Regions from separate parts of the Homo sapiens genome. Here regions 2, 3 and 4 are each linked to region 1. Evidence: fine-mapped expression QTL. A gene starts in region 1. Each other region holds a variant in brackets. All regions are shown on one strand. Distances are between the middles of the regions. Region 1 holds the start of ELP3 (elongator acetyltransferase complex subunit 3). Region 2 overlaps ELP3 (elongator acetyltransferase complex subunit 3). Region 3 overlaps ELP3 (elongator acetyltransferase complex subunit 3). Region 4 overlaps ELP3 (elongator acetyltransferase complex subunit 3).

Evidence for each region. PIP is the estimated chance that this variant, and not a neighbour inherited with it, causes the effect.
Region 2: its variant is the best candidate, but not a certain one, in a credible set for the expression of ELP3 in amygdala (GTEx, PIP 0.61).
Region 3: its variant is the best candidate, but not a certain one, in a credible set for the expression of ELP3 in blood mononuclear cells (TOPMed, PIP 0.69).
Region 4: its variant is the best candidate, but not a certain one, in a credible set for the expression of ELP3 in unexposed skin (GTEx, PIP 0.60).

The regions. Positions count from the first base shown.
Region 1 is chr8:28,090,377-28,095,563 of GRCh38, reverse strand. ELP3 (elongator acetyltransferase complex subunit 3) reads right to left here and starts at 2,425. Exons shown (of 15, transcript NM_018091.6): 1 at 2,331-2,425. The coding sequence starts at 2,349. RefSeq lists enhancers at 2,750-2,799, 2,291-2,844.
Region 2 is chr8:28,123,118-28,127,117 of GRCh38, reverse strand. All of the region lies in intron 7 of ELP3 (elongator acetyltransferase complex subunit 3), which reads right to left. Among named protein-coding and RNA genes, the nearest start is that of ELP3, 32 kb to the right of the region's middle. The variant T/C (reference allele first, on the strand shown) is at 1,681.
Region 3 is chr8:28,186,295-28,191,385 of GRCh38, reverse strand. ELP3 (elongator acetyltransferase complex subunit 3) reads right to left here. Exons shown (of 15, transcript NM_018091.6): 15 at 233-1,737. The coding sequence ends at 1,661. Among named protein-coding and RNA genes, the nearest start is that of ELP3, 96 kb to the right of the region's middle. The variant AGAACAAAAGATGCCCCTTG/G (reference allele first, on the strand shown) is at 3,011.
Region 4 is chr8:28,174,950-28,178,949 of GRCh38, reverse strand. The region is part of intron 14 of ELP3 (elongator acetyltransferase complex subunit 3); the gene reads right to left. It overlaps LOC105379343 (a long non-coding RNA gene), which reads left to right. Exons shown (of 2, transcript XR_949614.3): 2 at 879-4,000. Among named protein-coding and RNA genes, the nearest start is that of ELP3, 84 kb to the right of the region's middle. The variant A/G (reference allele first, on the strand shown) is at 1,603.

The DNA of each region.
Region 1 (5,187 bases):
CAAAGGCTAAATGCTTTCCAAACCATGTAACTCAGCACTTCCAGAGTTCTACAAAGGTGCCTCAGGGGCCATGCAACAGAGGTAGGACTGGTGGTGGTCATGGCAGAGGAAGGGAGAAGGGAAGAGGAAAATAAGGCATGGAGGAAAAAAAGGAGGAGGTCTCTTTATTTCCACCACAGCAGCTCTGCTTTCAGCTGTTTATATATTGAGGTTCTGTGTAAGAATTTATTTGGAGGGTAAAAGGGGATCGGCTGATAAGAACAGATAAGATTTGGAAACCACTTGTATAGCTCTTGAGTGTATCAAGAACTGGAAGAGTAAATGAGTAGGAAAAGACTTCATGAAGGAAATGGCACAGGGATCTTTAAAGATAGGGCAAGATTTGGACATGCAAAACAGAAGGCAATCCAGAAGAAATAATGTCAGGCATAGGAATTACCTATCTTTGTGTGAAACAGCACAGCCTAACTAAAATCCAGCTTTCTAACAGGGTGTAATAAAGAACAGATTACAGGGGACCCTGGCCACTAGGCAAAGGCATTGAAATGGAATGCAACAGACAGTGAAGAATTGCATATTCTCAACTTTGGAAATAAAAAGTTGAAAGTAACGTTTAAGGAAGGTAAGAATATTATCGGTACAAAGAATGATTCAGAAAGTGAAAAAGAATACATATAATATGGATACTACTCAAATGGCTCTTGAAAGGCAACATTGTTTTAAAAAACCCACAAAATCTAAGACAGGATCCAGTCCCAATGCCTACTGGCTGTGTGGTAACGGAAAAGATCGACAATTTTTTTTCTTTTTCTTTTTCTTTTTGAGACAGAGTCTTGCTCGGTCACCCAGGCTGGAGTGCAGTGGTGCGATCTCGGCTCACTGCAACCTCCACCTCCCAGGTTCAAGTGATTCTCCCGCCTCTGCCTCAGCCTCAGCCTCAGCCTCCCAAGTAGCTGGGATTAGATTACAGGCACCTGCCACCACGCCCGGCTAATTTTTGTGTTTTTAGTAGAGACAGGGTTTCACCACGTTGGTCAGGCTGGTCTCCAATTCCTGACCTCAAGTGATCCACCCGCCTTGGCCTCCCAAAGTGCTGGGATTACCGGCATGAGCCACCGCGCCTGGCCAAGATCAACAACTTTTGAGTGCCCATTTCCTTGTCTGTAAAATTGGGGTAATACATCCAAATTTCACAAAACCATTCTAAGACTCAAATAAATAATGTATATGAAAGCTGAAATACCATTCAAATATTAGTTAGTGATGAAGGTGGGTTAGGAGGTTGGCGGCCAGAATGAAGAGGAATAAACTATATCAAGAAGTAATTTCTAAGTAAGAATCAACATGACTTGGTGACAGAAGAAACTAAAAGAATCCTGGTAGATTGAGAAGGAGCAAGTTAGAGTGAGATAACAAATTAATTTAGGGCATGCAAATATGACAAGACTTAATCTAAGGTAACTTGGACACTTAGAATTGTTGCTTGGAAGAAAGAAAAATAACAGTTAATGTCAAGAAGCATAGGGATTAACGATGTATTTATTTTTCATTTTATGTTTTTTGAGGTCACAGATACAGCCTGACCAGCCAGCTCCATATCTAAGTATAATTTTGGTCTGGGAAAGTTACTTAACTCTTTGAATCTCAGCTTCTTCATCTGTAAAATGGAAATGATACCGACTTCAAAATACAAGCTCAATAAATGGTAGCTATTATTCTGACAACAATTACCATGATTAGACCAGCTGGTCAAATGAAATAGGAACAGAACCTGTGAGATACAGAAATAGGAACAGAACCTGTGAGAGAATATTTCAAATTTGAATCCGTCCTGTTGAAAAACCAAAGGTGGAATTGTTCATTGCTAACTCATGATGTAATAAAAATGGGAATAATTGCATGCACAACTCTTACACTGAATCCAAGGATAATTAAGGTTTTTTTAATATCTTAAAATAAGGCTTTAAAAGAAACTCTCTAACACGTCAAATGTGTCGTGAAACAAATCTTAACAAATGAAAAGTCCTACAACCCGTTAAATCGACGTTAACTCCTCGGAGGGCATATATTGGAATAATGGTTTCCCTGCCATTCAAACAAGACACCACGTGACTGCCAAAGAGGAAGAGAGGAAGGGTAGGGTGCTTCAAAAAGCAAAACAGGAAAAACGAGAAGGCTCGGGGACCAGAATGGACACACTGACCCTAGGTGGCGGGGCGACTGGACTGGGTAGCGGATTCTCGCGGTAAAAGTTCGGTTCAGCATTTGATTGCCTGGGCGTTCGCCCCTTTCGGACCACCCCTTTCCCCCATCTCCTTCCCCTTTCGCACCTTTCCGCTTCTGCCTCATTTCTGCGCCGCCGTAGCAGAGCCACCAGAGATAAAAATGCAGCCACAAACTCAGACCACGGGGAAAGCTGACAGCCACAAAACAATCCCGCCTGTCGTAAAATGTCGGTCAATGTATCGTAAAGCTCTTCCCGGAAGCCGACGTGCACAAAGCCACGCCCCGCCCCGTGTTGCAACTAACAGGGTAGCAGGCGGCCCGTGAGGCCCCTAGGCTGCGATCCTGCCCCGGGTCTCAGGGATGGAGGATGGGAACGTCTGAACGGAGTGGCATCTTGGGGTTAGAAAGCTCGACCTGGGCAGTACAGCTATGGGACAGAGTTCCTGGATAGAGGCTGCGCCAGGAAGCCTAAGTGAAAGGGTGGAAGTGGATGGTCTCTCATGGGGGGGAGTGGGAGCCCAGGGTCGTCACATCCGGGGAGGGTGGGTGGGAACGCGAATGGGCGAGACCACGGAGGAGGAACCCTCCCATGTTGTGGAAACTAACTGAGGGCCTGGAAGAGACCAGGCGGGAATCGAGTAAGAATCCGAGGTGCAGGCTTTGGGACCAGGTGGTCACCTTGGTCTTAGATGAATGGCACATATGATCGGTAACCATCGTGAAAGCTGTGGATGTCTCTTGTGGAAGGAAAATAACATCTCGGGACCCTAAACTCTGCCAAAGAAAAAAGTTAAGCTTAGGGCCGGGCGCAGTGGCTCACACATGTAATACTAGCACTATGCCCATCTCAGGAGGCCAAGGCCAGCAGATCATCTGAGGTCTGGCATTCAAGACCACCCTGGTCAACATGGTGAAACCCTGTCTCTACTAAAAATACAAAAATTAGCCAGGCGTGGTGGTGCACGCCTGTAATCCCAGCTACTTGGGAGGCTAAGGCAGGAGAATCTCTTGAACCCGGAAGTGGAGGTTGCAGTGAGTGGAGATCATTCTCTGTTGTCCAGCCTAGACGACAGAGCGAGACCCTGTCTCAACAACAACAACAACAACAAAAAGTTAAGCTTGTGAACTGAGTCACGCAAAAACTGCCTTCCTTCTGTTCCTAAACAGCTGCAAAGACAGAAGCCCACATATCTCCCTAGGTGGCCTCCCAGAGGAGTTGCTCACAGGGAAATTCCTTGTGAGTGGCAGAGTCTTTACCTTACAACACTTCTGTTGAATTCCACCCTGACCATGCAAATTTACAGTAGGTAGGGGACAAGGACAAGACTAGAAATCACCCTTCAGTCCACCCCAAGAAAAATGCATATTTGACTCCTTCCTCTATGTTTACTTTGTCTTCTGTAAAAGGCAGATTTACTGAGTGTGAAATGAATGCATAGTTGTTCCTCTTTCCCCTTCTGTCTGCTCTTTCCCTTTAAATATTGAAGTCCTCAAAACCCTCTTTGGAAAAACCACAGGCCACAGATTCCATGATAACTTATGTCTCTTTTTCCTGGGTGTGTCCTCAACCTTGGCAGAATAAACCTCCAGACTGAGACCTGTCTCAGACACTGTTTGGTTTACGTTCTCCAGAAAAATACACAGGCACAAAATTTTGCAAAATTTGGAGGCAGGACTTGGGATGTTTTCCTGAAACCCATCTATGATCTCCTTTGTCCATGGGCTGGAGATTAAGAACCTCTCCCATTAATAAAGACAGGAATATGTACCCTACTAGAATTGAGGCAACAACGAGGCTTTGACCCCACTATGACACTGAAACTGGCCTTGCTAAGCTTTGTAACTTCCCAGCCTGCCAAGTTCAGTGGTATTTGTCTGACCTCATTGTCATCCTATACCAATGAACATAAGTTCTCCTCTGTAAACCGAAAATAATTCTCAGCCCAGGGCATTCCAAAGTTAAACTGAAAAACTAGCTCAGGCCATGATGGGAAGTGGGGTTGGACATGCCTCCTTATTCCCTCCTCCTTTTTAGAATTCAGGAGCTGCTAACCAGTGTTAACATCAACACAGAGACCTTAAGGCTGATAGAGCACAGAACCGACTCTTAAAGTCTGATAAGAAACATTTACGGCCGGGCGCGGTGGCTCATGCCTGTAATCCCAGCACTTTGGGAGGCCGAGGTGGGCGGATCACAAGGTCAGGAGATCAAGACCATCCTGGCTAACATGATGAAACCCCGTCTCCACTAAAAATACAAAAAATTAGCCGGGCGTGGTGGTGGGCCCCTGTAGTCCCAGCTACTTGGGAGGCTGAGGCAGGAGAATGGCGTGAACCCGGGAGGCAGAGCTTGCAGTGAGCCGAGATTGCACCACTGCACTCCAGCCTGGGCGACACAGTGAGACTCCGGCTCAAAAAAAAAAAAAAAAAAAAGGAAACATTTACAATCTATTCTCTCTGAAGCCTGCTACCTGGAGGCTTCCTCTGCATGATAAAACCTTAGTCTCCACAACTCTGTGTCTTAACCCAGACATTCCTTTCTGTTCATTTCAGGTCTATAGATAATAACTCTTTCAACCAATTGCCAGTCAGAGAAAACTGAATCTGCCTGTGACCTGAAAGTGTTGCCCCCTGACCCCACATCAATGCTTTGAGTTGTCCCACCTTTCTGGTTGTTCTCTGTGGGATATGCGTGAGGGGAGAAGAAAAGACACATACACAATACCTTTAAGGGTAAACGACCTTTATCCCATGTAAATGGCAATGCAGATATAATAAGCAAATTGCAATGGGAAGGGTAGAAGGGAAAGTATATGTGTATACACACACACACACACACACACACACACACACACCCACCCATCAGACTATGGAGGATTTATCACAAGACCAAGAAGCAACAGCCTGGGTTCCAGACTTGGACACTACACTCACCAGACTATGGAGGATTCACCACCAGAC
Region 2 (4,000 bases), 32 kb before region 1:
TAACTCCATTTCAAAAATGTTTTTCCTCAGGCGGGAAATGTCATTACCTTTTGCAGCAACAGAAATGGTGGAAGAAAAAAACAACTCAAGTTTTGAAAAAATATTTTATATTTATAAAAAGGCTTTCACTATATTTCCTCTTTCCAGAATTGTATTTGCATCTGAAAAGCAATTAAACAGAAATTTGTATCAAATTTGAATGACAAAACAATGAATTTTTCCCATAGGCTTACTGTATTCTCATGAAAATTTTTTGATACTATATCTAATCCTACATCTCACCAAATCTGATTCTTCATTTAACAGAGATGTAAATATATCAACATAACTGTTCTTTAATATGCAAATATGCGCATACAGGCTTTCAACCAATCTGTGCTGACACTTTATGGCCTGGTATTAATATGATCCCCCTGTATCATTTAGGTAGCTATCCAACAGTATGTGCCACTTAGACAGCCATCCAAAAGCATGGCTCTCCTTCAGTACCTAGTTCAACTCCCATACCTCTTTGGGGGCTACAAGTTCTTCGGCATGCAGCAACTCTGTCAACTTCTCGAGAGACAAGGCCAAGACTCAAAAGGGATCCTCTGATTCCAATTCCACTGCTCTTTTTGTGGTATTACAGGTTCATTTTAAGCCTGTACAGCTCAACACTGTGGGGTTATGTTGAATCCTACGCTTTTCTGTATGCCATAGGAGTGGCACCAGCTATAAAAGATGCTATGTTCTCTGTGAAGCATAGCTTAAGTCAAAACCTTACGTTGACAGAATTTTTAAAAATTGTGGAGCAGGGGTGAAGAGAAATGGGACAATAACCCAGGAATTTAAAAGCAAACAAAAACCAAAGGCTACCAGCCTTCAAAACAGAGCTCCAATACATTTCTCCCCTAATGACATCTTCCCAGAACCCCTCCACCCTCAGTGAGATCTCAGTGCTCCCATTCCCAAGCACCCTGCCCACACTACAAGTAGTCAGCCTTGTTATTTGTGGTTATGTCTGTCTCTCCATCTGGACAGGAAGCCCCTGAAAGCCAGCAGGCTCAAACATGTCTAGAGGCTAAAAGGCTTCAACACTAAAAATTCTCCGTTGATTAAAAAAAAATTACAAATTTGAAGAAGGAATAAATGAATTAGGCATAACTGGGAACATAGGAGGTCTCTCTTCACTCCAACAGCAGCCTCCAGATACATCTACCGCTTATCTTTCCTCTTGCAAAAAGTTAACCTTAGAAGGTGCCTAGCAGTAGGCCAGGTATTCTTCAGAAAGTAAAAATATAATAGTTCCTGTCCCAGACATGCTTAACAATCTAGCTGGGGGGATAAGACATACAGAAAAAAAAAAAAAAAAAAAAAAAGAGAAATGACTACAGAACAAAAAGCTAGAAGTGGCAGAAATATAAATAGATTTAGATTATTTCTTGGGAAGCATGTTTCTATTTCTGGAAAGAAGAAAGCGACCTTTTGACAGAAGCACTATCTATTATTACTGTCTCCTTGCACTAAGGGCCCAACCAGGGGGACACTGATGGAAGGAAGATAGCACACTGATTTTAAAGTCTCTTTATTATCTTCTGGAAACTATCTTTTGTTTCACTCCAAGAAGCTGTGGTATCAAAGAGGTGGGCACCTCTCATTACAAATAATTCGTGGCAGCTCCTCTTTCAAAACCTCTGTCCT[T/C]ACTGCAACTGGATGTGCCTGAGTCTAGTCCTGCTTAAACTCTCACAAGAACTCAAGGCTCAAGTTGCTGAATGGCTTACAGAACATTCCCTGTGTGGACATGCTGCAACCTCATACTCAACCTGTTCAAACCAAATTGCACAGTAAAAAATGGTACAGAGATGAAATATTCATTTTCGTTAGTCACAACATACAATCTCTTCTCCATCTACGGTCCCAAAACAAGTCAGTGGAGTTTACTCACTTCTTTGAACAGCCAGATTTGTTTGAATTGTTGATAACACCTTGAGTTATTGGTGTAACTCCTTGGCAGCAGCACCATGAACAAATTCCTCTTCTTAACTATTACCCTATCTTGAAAATACCTCAATAAAATTTGAAGTTCTGCCCAATGCTCTGCTAGTGATGCTCTAGACTTAACTGAGTTGGATGTTTGATGTGCTTGAGGATTTAAAAATAACTATTACCCCCAATCTTTTTTTGAGATGGTAGTCAAGTCTGCTTCCTCGATATTGGTGGTTATATCATGAGGTTCTATAAATTAACCACGCCCAACACAAAATGAAGTAACGACAGAATTTTGATTTAAAAATGAGTACTACCTATGAAAAACCAACCTGGTGGCACTGCAGCTTACAGACTAATCAAAGACCCTTGTGCCCTATCACATTAGCTGGCAGGGCTTAAGATATATAAAAACAGCTTATAACATTTTGTTTGAGGTTTGATTTTTTTCATGGCTGACAAAAACTATCATTTTGTAGTCCCCTCGTGTAGCTAAAGAACCAGCAGCAACACATTATTAATAGAAAAGAAAAAAAGAATCACAGATATTGCATTCTTTTAATATTATATCCACATTGAAATTTAAGGGTTATATACATAAAAACATTATAGAAAATGATTGTCAGAAAGTGGTTGCTAAATGAAGAATAACTTGTGAACATATCTTTTAGATAAAAATTCTCTTCATTAGAAAGCTTCAAATCATAGATGACAGAAAGGTATAATTTTAGAGATAATATAGTCCTAAACCTCCTCATTTTTATAGATGAGGAAACTAAATCACACACACAAAATAAGTGGATTAAACCAGGTAATAATGCAAAATAATAATATAAATAAGTCTGGAGACTATGTCTCCTGATTCTTAAGGGACAGTTCTTTCCACCGCATTCACTTAGCATTTATTAAGTACCAGAATTCTATGCTTAAGGCATTGTACTAGATATAAGGAGTCCTCTACCTTTCTCTTAAGAAGATATTCCCTATTAAAGGATATAGAAAAAATACATTATAAAGAATTAGACCATAATAGTATTCATTACAACTATTATTCTTGGCTACTGAAAACCAAAGTGAGGAGATGATTAAACTGGCAGATATAAATCAAACCATCAGCTTAAACTGATGTATCAATAATTACATCAAATGTTAACAGACTAAACACTCCAATTAAAAGGCACACACGAGCAAAATGGATAAAAAAAAAAAGAGCCAATTACTGTAGACTTCTGTCTAAAGAAATGCATTTTCAAGATAAAGAAACATGGGTGGAAAGCAAATGTATGGAAAAGGATAATACACAGGGCAAACAGTAAGCACATGACGGCTAAATTAACACCAAGTAAACTGCAAGACCAGGGATGCGGAAGGACATCTCATGATGATAAAGAGGTAATTTCACAATGGTGAAAAGCTCATACATCAGGAAAACACAGCAATCATAGATGTGTATGTACCTAATAACAGATTTACAAAATACATTCAGTAAAAATCAATATAAATGAAGAGAGATGTACAGAGTTCCTCAATCATACTTGGAGATTTCAATCTCTTAGCAATTGATAGAACTACAAAAGAATAAAAAACAAAATTTACCTGAACACTACTACCAACCATCTTGGTTTAACTGATATTTATAGAACATGACACCCAGCAACTGAGAACACACATTCTTTACAAACACACATGGCATGTTCACCAAGAGAGACCACATATGCTGGGCCACAAAACAAGTCTCAATAAATTTTAAAACACCAAAATTATACAGAGTAGGTTCTCTGGCCAAAATGAAAATAAATTAGAAATTAATAAGATATCAAGAAAAACCTCATTGTCTGGAAATTTGGAAATTAAACACCCCATTCCTATACATTCCATGGATCAAATACATATATATAAAGGGTATGAAAAAATATTTTGAATTGAATAATAATTAAAATACACCATATCAAAATGTGTGGGATTCAGCTAAAGCAGTGCTTTGAGGAAAATGTCTAAAATGATGGCCAAGCTTTTTTTCTCTTTTTTTGAGAAG
Region 3 (5,091 bases), 96 kb before region 1:
AAGCATAATTGAGAAGTAGCTAAGTCCCTAAACGACACTCATGGAAAGCTGTGGTGGTTCCACAGCCAGCCCATAACAAAGCCACTGCCATTTGCCTCATAGCAGTTTAATGAAATGGCAAACAGCACCCGGGAGGAAATGAACAGTGCCATAGGTTGGAAACTGAAACCTGCACATTTGTGGCAAATGTCACTGCATTTACAGGGAGAGAAAGAAAACCACATGACTCTTCTTTGTATGTTAAAGACTTTTTATTTTCAGGCCCTTTCAGAGGAATCAATTCCTTTAAACCTTTGTAAAATGCCACAGGAGCCAAGGTTAAGCGATGCTTTTAACTTAGGAACTGACCCTCTCCAGGCAGAGTCTCCAAAGTAGATTACCTCGAAATTTCAAAGAGGCAGTTCTACAAGAGGAGCCTTTGAAGAAGCCAATCCTGTTTTCCATTGTTTTGCTTTCACACACGGGTTGAACTTGAACTCTTACCTTTCTCCATTTATAACAACCAAAATCCACCTTAAAAAATCAAAGGCTGGGAGCGGTGGCTCATGCCTGTAATCCCGGCATTTAGGGAGGCCAAGGTGGGTTGATCACCTGAGGTCAGGAGTTCGAGACCAGCCTGACCAATATGGTGAAACCCCCATCTCTACTAAAAATACAAAAATTAGCAGCGGCGGGTGCCTGTAATCCCAGCTACTCAGGAGGCTGAGGCGGGAGAATCGCTTGAACCCGGGAGGCGGAGGATGCAGTGAGATTGCGCCACTGCACTCCAGCCTGGGTGACACAGCGAGACTTTCTCAGAAAAAAAAAAAAAATTGCAAGTAATGGCTTCTGTGGAAGCAAATCTTGATTTAGGGGCACACAACCTGAGACTCCACCCGCTCAGGATAGACAGACAGGAAAGCCAAACGCTCTCTGGGGACCACACTTGGGGCTGCCCACACTGCTCTGTAGTTGCCAAGAGGGTGGGAAGTAGAGATAACAAAGAATGTGGAATGAAGCTCTTTGTCATCGCCGTCTCGGATGGTAGACTCCCGCCTGGGAGAGGCTGCTGGCTGGCTGCTGCCAGGCTCACACCCCCACAACTGCAATTCCTCTTTCCCAGTCACACTGCTATTTATTTCTAAACATCAGCACTGTAATCAGAATGATTTCCATGAAAACAAAAGCTCATTTTCCTAACTTGCGCTCCAATGCGTATGTCGTTAAAGGGCTGAGATTAGAGTCTGGTGGTTTTCCTGTTTCAACCTGACTTTCTGTCCCCAGGGTATATAAATAAACTACTCTTAAGTTTGCTCCTCGAATGACAATCAGTTTTATTGCATGAGTTATGGTGTCCAAATGAGTTAATTTGCTTTTTTCACCGTCTGAGTCAAAATAGGCCACCTGCAGGCCTCATGCAAAATGTAGAAACTGGATAGATGATTTAAGCCTCAAAAACGCAAGTGATTTTTTGGGGTGCACGCAGGAGAGGGCGGATCTGGGGTGTGGTCAGCAGATGACCAGCCGTGGCCTTGAAGGCAGTTTCCAGTCTCTGCAGCTGCGGGATGAGGGTGAAGCCCCCCATTTGCTCTGCTCAGCCTCTCTGTTGAGTATTTAAGAAATCCTGATTCTCCGTGTTCTGCCAGGGAGGATACTGCAGAAGAGTGGACTGGTGTGGCCATTATTTCAGCATCTTCACCATGTACGGGCCTTGTAATCTGTAGCCGATCTTTCTATAATAATTCCTGGTGCCGACCCCTGCAGAAAAATCGAAGTTAAAAAAGGAGCATTCACTTTAGCAATTCTCAAAAGTCGGCATGTGCTTCCCTCAGCCTTACACTCTCTCCCACCCAGAGACCAAATTCTCTCCCACATAAAATCTCAGCTTAATAAGTTTGGAACATTATTACTTTGAATTCAGGCTGCATTAAAATATAGAAACTGCTAAGTGGAGAGAAGAAGACTCTTTCCCTGATTTTTAACTCAAGCTCAGGGTATGTGACACACACACTCACAGGCAACAGCAAACGTGTGCACCCGTGTGTTGGAGCCTGCGTATTCACTACCCTACTGGCAACACCAGGCACCACCTTAGGTGCTACAGGTGAAGGAGAAGAGGTGGATTTACTGTCTGAGCTGCCTATGCTCCAGATGAGGCCAAACGATAGACGGTTTCCCAGAAGTTTTAAAGAGAGAAGAGTGGGGGAAAAAATGGGATCTCCACTCAGCCCCAGTAGCGAAGGTACACTTGTGGCTACTGTCAGAAGTGTTGGAAGTATACAAGGCTTAACAGGAAAAAGTGTTTTCCTCATCAGTTGGTGTCAAAGAAGCAGCTTTGCTGGGATGGCCCTGGCTCATGAAGTGTGGTTTGTGAAGAGAAGTGTAGGTTTTCCATACCAAGCAACTGTCCAGTTCTCTGTTGACACCAACTGGGTGTTCTATAATTTAACTCAATTTGGACCCTACCTACTCTGATGAGCGCAAGGCCCCCCAGTTCTGAGCTCAGTCCAGAGACTGCCCCCAACTTCAGACACCAATTGCAAGCAGAGGGGCTGCAGGTTGCCTACAACTGCTGTCCAAGTTGGCTACAAATGGAGGGTTCCTACAAGCCCCTCCTCAGATTTGATAATTTGTCATAATGGCTCACAGAGCTCAGGGAAACATTTACTTACGTTTACCAGTTTATTACAGGATATGATAAAAGATACAAGTGAACAGCCAGGTGAAAAGGCACACTGGGTGAGGTCTGGGAGGGTCCCGAGCACAGAAGTGTTTGTCCCCACCGCGTTGGGGTGCACCATGCTCCCAGCAAGTGGATGTGTTTGCCAAAATGAAAAGTTCTCTGAACCCCATCTTTTAGGGATTTTTATGGAGTTTCATTGTGTAGGTATGATCAATTACTAACTCCATTTCCAGCCCCCTTCCCTCCCCGGAGGAGGGAGGGTGGGGCTGAAGGTTCAACCCTCTCCTCATGGCTTCATTTTTCTGGTGACAGGTCCCCACCCAGGAGCCCACCAAGAGTCACCAGATT[AGAACAAAAGATGCCCCTTG/G]AACCCCTGCAGCTCAGAAAATTACAAGGGTTTTAGGAGCTCTATGTCAGGAACCAGGAACAGAGACCAAATTATATTTTTTATGATGTCTCAACATTCAAGGAACATGAACTAGTTGAAGTTGGTACTAAAGGTCCATTACCCCTGCATATTGGACGCATTCCTCAAACAGCCCGGCTGTCTGTGCCTGGGAGTGAGACAGCTGAGGCTGGGCGGGGAGAGCGATCAGCAGCACCTGCCACAGGCACTCCCTCCGTCCTTCCCTCCCTCTCTGCACGTCCCTGCACTGGGCTTTGGAGAAGTGCATCTCCTGATTCTCCTCTAGCTCGCTGGCTGCCCTTCCTTAGTCTCCTTTGCTGCTTCCTCCTCGTATCCCTAACTGAAATCACTGCAATATGCAGCTCTTCTGTGCACGCGCTTCCTGTGACACTGAGCGTAAACCTATGTATACACTGGCAACCCCTAAATCTGTCACTCAGAGCTCTCCTTGAGCCTCAGATTCGTCCACAGGTGCTGCATGACCCACCTGAATGTCTAAATTGCATGGAAGGTGTAGCAGGTCAAAAACCCAACTCCTGGTAACCTGCCCCGCAAGCTCCCTCCGCAGGAAGCTCCCTCTCTGTAAATGGCCACTCCACTGCCAGTTGTTCAGGGCAACTCATTCCCATCTTTCTGTCAAATTCCAAATCAAGAGACTTGAATAAAATGAAAGAGAAAGGCCTGAGGCTACATGGGGGGGACAGGATTCTAGGGAGCAGGAAAAACAAATGTGAAAGTCCTGAGACGGGCGTGCACTCAACTTACTCAAGGAACAAGGAGGCACCATCATGCAGGTCTCCTAAGGAATCTGGCTTTTATTCTGAGTGAGATGGAAGAATGAGAGGATGCTGGTCAAAGGAGGGACATGATCTGACTGCTGTTTTGAGAACAGAATGAAGGCTCCAGGAGGGCAGGGATTTTGTTTTATTCACTGTAGAGCTGCCAGTACCCAGAGTGATGCCTGTCACATGTGAGGTACACGGTAAATATTTGCTCACTGAATGGATATGTGACCAAGGGCAGAAATAGGGAGATCAGGTAGGAAGCGATGACAATAATCCAGGTGGGAGATGGTGGTGGCTCGGGCTGAGTCACAGTGGTGAAAAGTACCCAGAGCCTGGGCATATGTGGAAGGCAGAGTGAAAAGAATCTGCCAACGGATGTGGGGTGTGACGGGAGCCAAGGCGACTCCAGGGTATTTAGCCTGAGTAAAGGAAGAGTCTGGAGAAACAGGAGCCACCACTGCCTGGGAGTGAGGAGATGGTGGGAAGAGCTTGCAAGAGGAATCAGGAGTGGGGCTCCAGTCAGGCTGCATGTGGAATGGCTGCTAGACATTCATGCCAAGATGCTGAAGACTCTGATTTTGGAAGCTTTTGTTGTTCTTAAAGAGACACAGGGAGTGCTATGGGTTAGGTATTTGTCTCCTCTGAAACTCATGTTGAAACTTAATCCCTATTACTGAGAGGTGGGGCTATGAAGAGGTGACTAGAGTGTGAGGGCTCTGCCCTCATGAAAGGATTAATCTATTCATGGACTAACAGGATAATGAGTTCTAGTGGTTTTACAAGAAGAGGAACAGGGTCCTGAGCTGGCACATGCAGCCCTACCACTGTGTGATGCCATGTGCTATCCTGTGCCACCGCAGGACTCCACAGAAAGTCCCCACCTGCAAGAAGGCCCTCACTAGATCCAGCCCTTTGACCTTGGACTTTTCAGCCTCCAAAACTGTAATAAATAAATTCCCTTTCAGGTATCCTGTTATAAGCAATCGAAAATGGACTTAGGGACGGTCTCTTTTCTTGGATGTTGCTTTGCAAGGTAATTTCGGACGGGGGCAGTTGTCTTCCAAGGGGCTGAAGTGGTGATGAAGAGTGAGAAGGCAGAGCCACCTGGCTCCTTTTTGAAATTGCCGAACCCTGAATTAATCAGTCCCAAAGCTTCTCTATATATTTCTTATGAAATATTTTCCATTTGGTTTAAGCCATTTTGAGGATATTTTTGCTTTTAAGTATACAGCTCGGTG
Region 4 (4,000 bases), 84 kb before region 1:
GTGGATTTTAGAAAAACTCACACACACATGTGCACACAGCAACTTCAGAAAGAGGATCTCCAAATGGCCAGTAAACACATGAAAAGGTAGTCAAAATCATCAGTTATCAGGGAACGCAAATTAAAACCACAAAGAAATGCCACTCATATTCATCAGAATGGAACAACTAAAACTCATACATTTCCTGTAGTAGTGAAAAATTGTAGAAGCACTTTAGAAAGCCACTTGGCAGAATCCTCAGCTAAATCTATGTACTCTCTACAACCCAGCAATTGCACTCTTAGGTGTACATTCTACAGAAATATGTCCTTATGTGTCCCAAAATACATACACAAGAATATTCATAACTCTAACCTGGAAACCCAGCAAGAGTTAAGACGGATAAATCGTGAACTATCAGCATAATGGAATCCCATATATCAATGAAAAGGAATGAAATACAGCTACTACAACGTTGACTCAATCTTACAGCAATGTTGAGCAAAAGTAACCAGAACAAAAATATGCAACAACAAAACTAGACCATGTAGTTAAGGGATACATACTTACGAAGAAAATACCAAAAAAGTTAGGATACTGGGAAGGAAGAGGGAAGGGCCAACAGAGGCACTTCTTGGATGCTGGTTATTGACATAAGTGGGGGTTAGAGAGTGCGATGGTCCGAATGTGTATCCCCCACAAAATTCGTATGTTGAAACTTAATCCCCAATGCAATAGTATTAAGAGGTAAGGTCTTTGGGTGACAATTAGGTCACGAGGCCTCTAGAACTATGAGAAATTTCTCATTTATAAATTACCCAGTTTTGTTATAGCAGCCTGAGTGAGCTAAGACATACAGGTGTTATTTAACATTTTATAAACTCTGCTATTTGTTACAGCTTCCAGTAAACTTTTAAAATGAAAAAGAAGGCAAGATTAAATAATCTCAACTATGTGACTGCTTAAATGGGGAATGAAATCAATTCTTCACATCTATGGAAAAACAAGTGAGCCAGGGTTGTGATTCCAACTGGATAAAGAATGAACGTGGAATTATTAATGTGATGTAACAGAGGAAGAAATAAGTTTAATTGATCAAGTATTTGCTCAGTATGTACTAGGAGCCTGGAAATTGAAGAGTTTTATCTCTTGGAATTCCTTAAGAAAAACCTTGGCTTAATAATTTAAATGTTTTCATGTCTGAAGCAGGAAAATGAATTAGCTATTACAGGTGCATTCTTGTTCTTTGATGCTTACTTGTTAGGACATAGGCCACCCTTCACTGCTAGTAATGTGTTCTTAGACAGAATTAAAATTGAGCCCACATCACATTCTCACAGCCAAACTTGTAAATCTATCCTTTAAAGCTCAAATTTCTGTTTTGATTAGATGCAAAACATTCAGATGATTTATGATTGTTTAATTAAAAGAAATCAGTGAAATAAAAACAAATTAAACTGTTTTAATTGCTTTTGGGTTCAATTAATCAACTATTGCCTACTTGATGTATCTACCAACATTAACACAAGGAAATATATTCATTAGTTTCATTCACTTGCTATTGAAATGAGACTTTATTATTTCTCATTGATCTCCTGCCAGGATGGCGATATTTTACTCTTC[A/G]ACAATGTACACTGATATCAAAGTTGGGAAAAGGTTTCTATCCTGAATGTTTGAAAATGAACCAATTAACTACACGACCCTAAACCTTTCAGAATTTTTTCCCCATTCTATTAAAAAAAAAATCATACAAAGGTTACCCATGTATAATCTTAGTTCTTCAAACTGGTTATTGCAACTAACACAGTATACATTATTCTCCATCACTGTGGAAATACAGAGTACCTCAAGAGAGTCTCCTACCCAGCAGCCTAAAGGTTCTTCTACACATTTTGAAAAGGCTACCAAGATAAGAACAAAGAATAAAATTAGGTAATTTACAAAGGAGGTATACAGAATCTAAATAGATACTACCATGGTAACTTACAGTTGGGTGATGCTGGTGGGTTATCTTACAGCTCTTAGAGAGTTTTTTTCTTTCAGGGAGTCTGGCCTATGATGTGACATAGGATGGCCCACAATCAACTGATTCAAAAATAGAGGGTCTCTGTTTCTATCAGTGCAGGATGTTTGCTATGTCACACATCATTCTCACTTCTTTACTCATGTCAAAAATCATTAGTGTGTCTCTGCAGAAGTTAGACTGTACCATCTTATAACCTGGTAGGAAGAGGGACCCCTTCTATTTATAGTCTCTTTAAATACAGACTTCAAGAGGGAAAATGGCAAGGTAGGAATTTTCAGAGATTCATCCTTCTGCTAAAACGACGATTACGCTGGAAAAAAAATAATTGCAACCAACTATTTTGGAATGCTGGAACTTGGTAAGATACTTACAGTGACTAGGGGAGTGTCTGATGAGGGAGAGGCTGTAAAACTTCACTCAGGGAACAGCATGCTTAAGCCACCAACCATCCCCCATTCCTTAGCTCCACCGTAGCCACAGGAATGGTAACTTATTTTCCTGGAGCAGCTGGCTGGAACTGGAGTGGGCAATAAGGACCTAGTCCTCCAAAAATATAGGGCTGTGTATTATGTTCACTTTGGAGGTTCCTGGAAGGACCAGTGCAGACACTTGTCTTTGTTTTGACCCCATCTCACTTCCTTCGTGGAGTGTATCAAAAGATTTGAAGAGATACACATCCTTTTTTCTTTTTTTGAACCAGACATTTAAGAAAAATCCCTCTCAGGTCACAGGCTGATCATAGAGATAAGAACAGAAATTTCAGTGACTACACACACAATGAAGAACACTCAGACTTTGCAAAAATAGTTTGGAAAAGTCACTAGACAGGGCCGGGTGCAGTGGCTCATGCCTGTAATCCTAGCACTTTGGGAGGCCAAGGCAGGTGGATCACTTGAGGTCAGGAGTTCGAGACTAGCTTGGCCAACAAGGTGAAACCCCGTCTCTAATAAAAATACAAAAAAATTAGCCAGGCCTGGTGGCACATGCCTGTAATCCCAGCTACTAGGGAGGCTGAGGCAGGAGAATAGCTTGAAACCGCGAGGCGGAGGTTGCAGTGAGCCGAGATCATGCCACTGTACTCCAGCTTGGGTAACAGAGCAAGACTGACTCCCCAAAAAAAAAAAAAAAAAAAAAGTCACTAGACAAATGCATGATTACAGACCTCAAAAGCAACTCCTCAGAAAGAGAAGAATGATTTCCAGAGTTACCACATTATACTAATTGTGTAGTTCTCAGTAGTTCAATATAAAATTGTAAAGCATACAAAGAACAGGGAAGAATGGCTCATTCACAGGAAAAAAGAATTCAACAGAAATTATTCCTGAGGAAATCCAGACACTGGGATTACTACTCAAAGACATTAAATCAACTGTATTAAATATGCCTAAGGAGTTACAAGAAACCATGGACAAAGAAAGGATATCAAGGGGATACTATCAAAAAGGAATGTCAATAGACAGGAATTATATTAAAAAATAGAAATTCTGGCACAGAGATGTATGATAGTAAAAATAAAAAATTCACTAGAGGTGTTCAATGGCAGTTAAGAGGAGGCAGCAGACAGAATCAGTGGACTTTAAGATAATGCAACTGAATTTATCTAGTCTGAGGAGCAGAAAGAAAAAATGTAGAAAAATAAAAGACGTGGGGGATACCATCAAGCATACCAATATATGCATTGCTGGAGTTTCAGAGGGAGATGAGAGACATAAAGGGTAGAAAAAAATGTTTAAAGAAATGGCTGAATACTTCCCAAATTTGTTGAAAGACATGAATCTATACATTCAAGAAGCTCAGCAAATTCCAAGCAGGATAGCCTCAAAGAGATCCACAATGATCACAATATGAGTCAAACTGTTGAAAACCTGAGAGAATCTTGAAAGCAGCAAGAGGCAAAATGAGTCATCACATAGAAGGAATCCTCAATTAGACTAACAACTGATATTAGAAACTATGGAGGTCAGAAGGCAATGGGATGGCACATTTAAAGTGCTG